2 linked regions of the Homo sapiens genome follow. The protein of the gene in region 1 purifies or fractionates together with the protein of each later gene. This does not show direct contact. Each region holds a gene or a part of one and is shown in the gene's direction. Other genes may lie near its edges.

What was found.
Region 2: the proteins of SCN1B (region 1) and CNTN1 purify together in Homo sapiens (affinity purification with western blotting, with the first as the bait; one study listed by BioGRID). This does not show direct contact.

What each region holds. Positions count from the first base shown.
Region 1 is NC_000019.10:35,033,470-35,036,969, forward strand, and holds part of SCN1B (sodium channel regulatory subunit beta-1 isoform a precursor), read left to right. Parts: intron 1-29; coding exon 30-270; coding exon of another isoform or gene 271-629; exon of another isoform or gene 630-3,500. UniProt on the Homo sapiens protein: Regulatory subunit of multiple voltage-gated sodium (Nav) channels directly mediating the depolarization of excitable membranes.
Region 2 is NC_000012.12:40,936,939-40,940,438, forward strand, and holds part of CNTN1 (contactin-1 isoform 1 precursor), read left to right. Parts: intron 1-631; coding exon 632-749; intron 750-2,396; coding exon 2,397-2,547; intron 2,548-3,500. UniProt on the Homo sapiens protein: Contactins mediate cell surface interactions during nervous system development.

The sequences.
Region 1 (3,500 bases):
GACACCTTCCCCTCCCTGGCTACCCCTAGATCCTGCGCTATGAGAATGAGGTGTTGCAGCTGGAGGAGGATGAGCGCTTCGAGGGCCGCGTGGTGTGGAATGGCAGCCGGGGCACCAAAGACCTGCAGGATCTGTCTATCTTCATCACCAATGTCACCTACAACCACTCGGGCGACTACGAGTGCCACGTCTACCGCCTGCTCTTCTTCGAAAACTACGAGCACAACACCAGCGTCGTCAAGAAGATCCACATTGAGGTAGTGGACAAAGGTGAGTCGGGTGCTGCCTGCCCCTTTACCGTCACCCACCGGAGAGCCAGATGGAGGGACAGATGGCAGGCAGTGGACAGGACAGGCTGGCTCTGTGCCTGGCCAGCCAACCGCCCACAGCAGCGGGCTGAGGGGGAGGGGAGCAGCCCCTCCTGCCCACTCCAGCTCTGGCCTCTGTTTCTCTCCAGCCCACGGAGAGGTCAAAGCATGCCTGTCCCCCACAGACGCTCCGGGTACAGAACCCAGCTCTGTCACCTGTGCTGTATGACCTCTGGCAGGTGCCTTCTGTCTCTGAGCCAAAGGGTTGTCCTGGGCTTGCCCGGGATAATAATCCGATGTGTTTCTCGGGGTGTGGTTTGAGCCATTCTTCCATCATGGGGTTCATGAGGATTGAGCAGCTGCAGGCACACGCCTGGCTTCCAGCAGAGCCTTGCAGGTGGTGGCGAGGGTGGCGGTTCTTACTGTTCGAGTAGCTCAGCCCTGCTGCCCTCTGTGGTGATGAGGCAAGAGAGCGTGCCACCTAGAGCAGAGTTCCGCACACCCCTCTGCACTCCTGCCCCGGGGGAGCCGCGCTGGCCTGCAGTCTCACTCAACACCTCTGGGGCGGGCCTAGGGGTCCTTTCTAAAGCTCTCAGGTGAGGCAGTGAAGGGCCACAGGTGCGGGGCCCACCCTCTGAGCAGCAAGGGCCTACAGCGCTTTTGAACGTCTCATCATTTTGCCTCAGCCACCCTGGACCCCTTTTCTGAGGGAGGTCCGCCCCTTCTCTGATCCATCTTCTGCTCAGCATCAATTGCAATTGTCCAGCGCCCTGTGGCCACTGGCTTAGAGTTGGGGAAACAGCCCAGGCCTTGAAGCAGCTACAAGCCGTGGCAGAAAGGTCTCTCAGGGCCACGGCACACACATCCTCATGGGCAACACGCACTGCCCATCTTTTCTGTGAGATGGGTGCCGGCCTCAGTGCCTTACACGGAGTCCCTTAGTGAATCCTCTCCCCACCCTCTGGGGTAGGGGCTCTTCCTATCCCCATTTTACGGATGAGAAAACCAAGGCTCAGGGAGGGAAGGTTATGTGGCCAAGGTCATGTGATTGGGAGCTGGACTTGAATCCAGAGGAGCTTGGGTGACTGTGTTTCTGTTCTTGGCATGATTCACTGTACTCTGTGATCAGCCAGAGCCTGTGGGTTTCTTTTTATAATTAGCATTTTTACGTTTATTGTCAAATTGGTGTAGCAGAATGCAATTCAGCAGGCATGTCTGAGCCACTCTGGTGTTTGTCACGATGCTGGGGGGTGGGGGTCACCCGCAGACATGGATGATGGAGCCCCGCCTGCGGAGTTGCTGTGACAAAGATGCCTGCGGTACTGGGACTTTACAAAACCTGTGTTATTGCTCTTGCAAATCTGCAGAGGTGAGATGGGGAGAGGGTGGGAGGCTCCAGGGCACTGTTCAGCCACCCAGGTTCTTTCCATCTTGTTGTTTGGCAGTTGGCCAGGGTGTTGTGTCCTCTGTACGCCGTGACCCAATAGAGCCTCTTTTTTTTTTTTTTTAAATTTAGATTTTTATTTTTTGAGACGGAGTTTTGCTATTATTGCCCAGGCTGGAGTGCAATGGCGTGATCTCGGCCCACTGCAACCTCTGCCTCCCAGGTTCAAGTGATTCTCCTGCTTCAGCCTCCCGAGTAGCTGGGATTACAGGCATGTGCCACCAAGCCCAGCTAATTTTTGTATTTTTAGTAGATATGGAGTTTCCCCACATTGGCCAGGCTGGTCTCGAACTCCTGACCTTAGGTAATGATCCACCTGCCTTGGCCTCCCAAGGTGCTGGGATTACAGGTGTGAGCCACTGCGCCTGGCCTGAGCCTCTCTTTTTTAGGATTGCCCACTGTATGACACTACATCCCACAGCCTGTGCTATTACCAGCATTTACCATCATATGCAGTTCCTTATGTTGGCCCTGCAGAGTTTGTGTTTTCTGCACTATCCACCCAGTTCTAGTGTTTTTTACCCACCATATGTAGTATTGCCTTTTAAACATTACCCACTATATTATAGTATTTTATATTACCCACTATAGGATATTTTATATTACACAATATATTTTACTATCATAATATTGCCAAACACAACAGTTTTTTGTTTTTTGTTAAAGAGACCAAGTCTTGCTCTGTTGCCCAGGCTGGGATACTGTGGCGTGATCATAGCCCACTGCAGCCTCGAACTCCCGAAATCCAGCGATCCTTCTGCTTGAGCCTCCCACGTAGCTGGGACTACAGGTGTGAGCCACTACGCCCGGCAATTTTTTTTTTTTTTGTAGAGACTGGATCTTGCTATGTTGCCCAGGATGGTCTTGAACTCCTGGCCTCAAATAATCTTCCCTCCTTAGCCGCCGTAAGTGCCGAGATTACAGGAGAGAGCCTCCGCGCCTGGCCTACAGTATTTTTATTATAATCCATCATACTAGCGTATTTTTAACGTTCCCCACCATGGCGGGTATTTTTATTACCCACCATGCTATGCTATAGTATTTCAAAAATTAATCCTATTGTAGCATGTAAAAATATTCCATTCTATACCATACTATATTCATCATTACCTCTGATACTACAGTATTTTTAACATGACTCATTGTGCTATTGTATTTTTTCATTACCCACAATACCACAATATTACTGTATTTGTTAGCACTGCCTGCCATTCCTTATTATTATTATTTTTGCAATGGAGTCTCGCTCTGTCACCCAGGCAGGCTGGAGTGCAGCAGTACAATGTCGGCTCACTGCACCTCCCGGGCTCAAGCGATTCTTCTGCCTCAGCCTCCCAAGTAGGTGGGATTACAGGTGCACGCCACCATGCCCAACTAATTTTTGTACTTGTAGTACAGACGGGGTTTTACCATGTTGGCCAGGCTGGTCTCGAACTCCTGACCTCAGGTGATCCACCCACCTCAGCCTCCCAAAGTGCTGTGATTACAGGCGTAAGTTACCATGCCCAGCCTATTATTATTATTATTATTATTATTATTATTATTTCAAGTTAGAGTCTCACTCTGTCACCCAGGCTGGAGTGCAGTGGCACGATCTTGGCTCACTGCAGCCTCCATCCACCTCCCGGGTTCAAGCGATTCTCCTGCCTCAGCCTCCGAAGTAGCTGGGATTACAGGCACGCGCCACCACGCCCGGCTAATTCTTTTGTATTTTTAGTAGAGACAGGGTTTCGCTATGTAGACCAGGC
Region 2 (3,500 bases), on another chromosome or scaffold:
TCCCTGTTCAAGCAGTGTTTCAGGGTAGTCCTGGGATAAATTTAGCAGGAGAGACAATACAGAAAGGGCACTTGGGCCCTGAAATATAAAAGCTTCCTAAAAAAGACAAAAACTGAACATAAAGTATCTTCTTTCAGTTTAAACAACTTTCTGTAATCTTACTCTACCTTCTCTCTCTCTCTCTCCTTATTTTTTTCCTTTGTTCCACTTTTCCACCCTCTTCCTACTCATCCATCTCCAATACCTGATATTGTCCTCTTTTTCTTGCCACTATTTTCCTGTACCCCACAGAGACAGAGGTAAGAGTGAAGCTCTAAGTCCTACCTTTGGCCCTGGGGACAAGTAGCAGCAGTGGGATTCTTCTCTACCTTCCCACTGTAATCTCCCAGCTGGTCCAAGAGGGGAAAAGGTGGACTCTCAGCTCTGTAGGATGAATAGAACAAGAGCCTTTGGGCATGGTAAGTGGGTTTTCCTTTCCCATGCCATGAAAATCCCACTCAGTTCATCTTAGGTAACAGTGGGGGCAGATGAACATAATGTATCTAAATGAAAAGACAACCAAACCCAGACCTAAGTGAAAGTATTTCTATTAAAGTTCATTGAGAATATGTTTCAATTTTATTCTTTTCAGTATCATAAAGGGGAATTAAGACTGTATGATGTGACTTTTGAAAATGCCGGAATGTATCAGTGCATAGCTGAAAACACATATGGAGCCATTTATGCAAATGCTGAGTTGAAGATCTTGGGTCAGTATCATTTCTAATTTCTGTTAAACATTGTTAAAGCAATATGTCATATCACACAAAATGTTTATTGAGCCTACACAAAATACCCAGTATTGTGTTAGGTGTACAACATATGTTGGTTGTTTACTGATTTATTTATTGCTAATTATCATAATTCAGACTAACGAAACAATGGAATAGAATGAATCTTTGCCACAACAAAAGTCTTCTTCAGAGCATCAGCAGCAGTGGCCATACCTAGGAGCACATTAGAAGTGCAGAATCCCAGGCTCACCCCAGACCTACTGAATGGACACTTTAAAAAGATACCCAGATGATTTTAATACAAAGATAATTTTGAGAATGACCAGACCAGAGGATGAAGAGTCAAAACCCAGATGAAGATATGCTTAGGCCTAGAAAAGCCTCCAGAAAGTACATAGTTACGGATGATTGTAATGTGTTGAAATATATGGATGAAATCTGCTTGGAGTCTGCCAAGGGAAGAGGAGAGTGAGCAGTGGATTAAATGTGTGGATGCTGAGGAAAGTCTGAGCATGACATCAATGAAGTAACCTTTTTTAAGCCTCTGTATTCTGTTCTAATAATTATTGCTCTGTACTTGGAGGTAATGATGAACTACAAATGATCATGTCTCCTTAATTAGTTGATTAGATCCATTATTCCCATAGCTGTTTATAGATAGATCCTGAAAGCAGGACTCCAATTATTTTGGCATTTTGCAGGGTGTTTGCATACAGATGATGCTCAGTAATTGTATAAAGAAGGAGAGACTGCATTGTTTAATGAAAAGTACATGCTTTGGAAACAGAAGGACCTAGATTCAAATGTGACTCCCACTTATTACTACCTGTGGTACCTTTGCCAAATTAAATAATCCTAATAGATTTCAATTTTCTCATTTATAAACTGGGAATAGTTCATTCAACATGTGGTTTAGAGGATTGACTAGGACCATATGTCAGTGTGTATAATGCTGGTCAATTTTTTCCAGCCTTTCACTTTACTTTCCTTGTGGAATTGAGTCAAAGCAACAGAATTCAGAGTTAATTTTAAGGTAAATGTGTATAAAACATTTGATTGAAATTGAAGTTATTTATTTATTGAGACAGGGTCTCACGGTGTTGCCCAGCCTGGAGTGCAGTGAGGCGATCACGCTTCACTGCAGCCTTGACCTTCTAGGTTCAGGTGATCCTCCACCTCAGCCTCCTGGATAGCTGGGACTACAGGCATGCACCAACATGCCCAGCTAATTTTTTTGTATTTTAGGTAGAGATGGAGTTTTGCCGTGTTACCCAGTCTGCTCTCAAACTCCTGGGTAAGCCATCTGCCCACCTCAGCCTCTGAAACTGCTGGGATTATAGGTGTGAGCCACCCATGCCTGGATTCTAATTAAAGTTTCTAATAATCAATTCAGTTATCATCAAGAATTGTACATTTGAATTGGGTGAATTTTATAAGTCAAAGTTATTAAATAAAAGTTACAAAGCATTAGGTATAGAATGCCTATTGGTGACAGCTGATCATATTTACCGAGATTAATCCTTTCCATTAACTATTAAGGAGAATAAAAGATTCTACAACACAGAAGCAATGTTTAGGCTTTACAAACAGAAAGAGAAAGATAACAATTTGTTTTCTTTTTAGCGTTGGCTCCAACTTTTGAAATGAATCCTATGAAGAAAAAGATCCTGGCTGCTAAAGGTGGAAGGGTGATAATTGAATGCAAACCTAAAGCTGCACCGAAACCAAAGTTTTCATGGAGTAAAGGGACAGAGTGGCTTGTCAATAGCAGCAGGTCAGTGCTGAAACTAGAAATCCAATTGCAAAATCTGTTTGAAAAAGTTTATTTTATAGAAGACTTGTTTATATGTTAATAATGAAAATGTTTTTTGCTCTGAATTTTTTTTTTCACAGAAGATCCTGTAGTTCTAAGATGGACAGAAATACCTATCCCTGTCAGTATCTATTATAATGAAGGTTTAATTAACAGGACTCTATAATGTATAAGGAATTTAGAAAATTGAAGCTCAGAGGTGTTTTTTTGTTGTCTTGTTGTTATAAATTGCCCAATGTCACACAGCTAATAAACAATGGGAAATAAAGTAGGATCTCTCTAACATATTTTTCCCCAGTATAGGCATCTGGCATCTATATCCATTCATATTCAACTGAATTTTGTGCAGTTAGCCTATTAAATATTTTTGTAGAAAAATAAAAAGGTGATTTCAAAGTGCAAATAATCTCTTCCTATCTCAAAATGAACAAGATGTTATCATCATCTTCCTTATAAATGGACCATCTACCAATGTTTTGGTGGTTTGGGGACAAAATGAAAAAGCAGTGTACAACTTATATAGATTATTTGTATAAAAGCCACACTGAATAGTTTATATGTATCCTAGAAGAAGTAATATTGAGTGCAAAAATTATGACGAGGAGAAAGCCAGGATGGGAAATGGGAGGGATGGGATGTGTGGGTTGGCTTGAGGGTGTATGTGAGGGTGTATGTGAGGGTGTATGTGAATGTGAGGGCAGCATGTACAAAGGCCCTATGGTGAGGAGTTTAGAATGTGTAAGAAATTGCAGAAACTGAAATCAGTGTGATTTGTCTTTAGAGGAAAATGGAGGAGACTTTTAAGAGATGAGACATAGTAAGCCACATCATAAATGACAAAGTTTTCTATGCTAAGGGGCTTGGGCTTCATCTAAGAGTAATATAAATCTGTTTAAAGTCTTAAACAAGGGAGG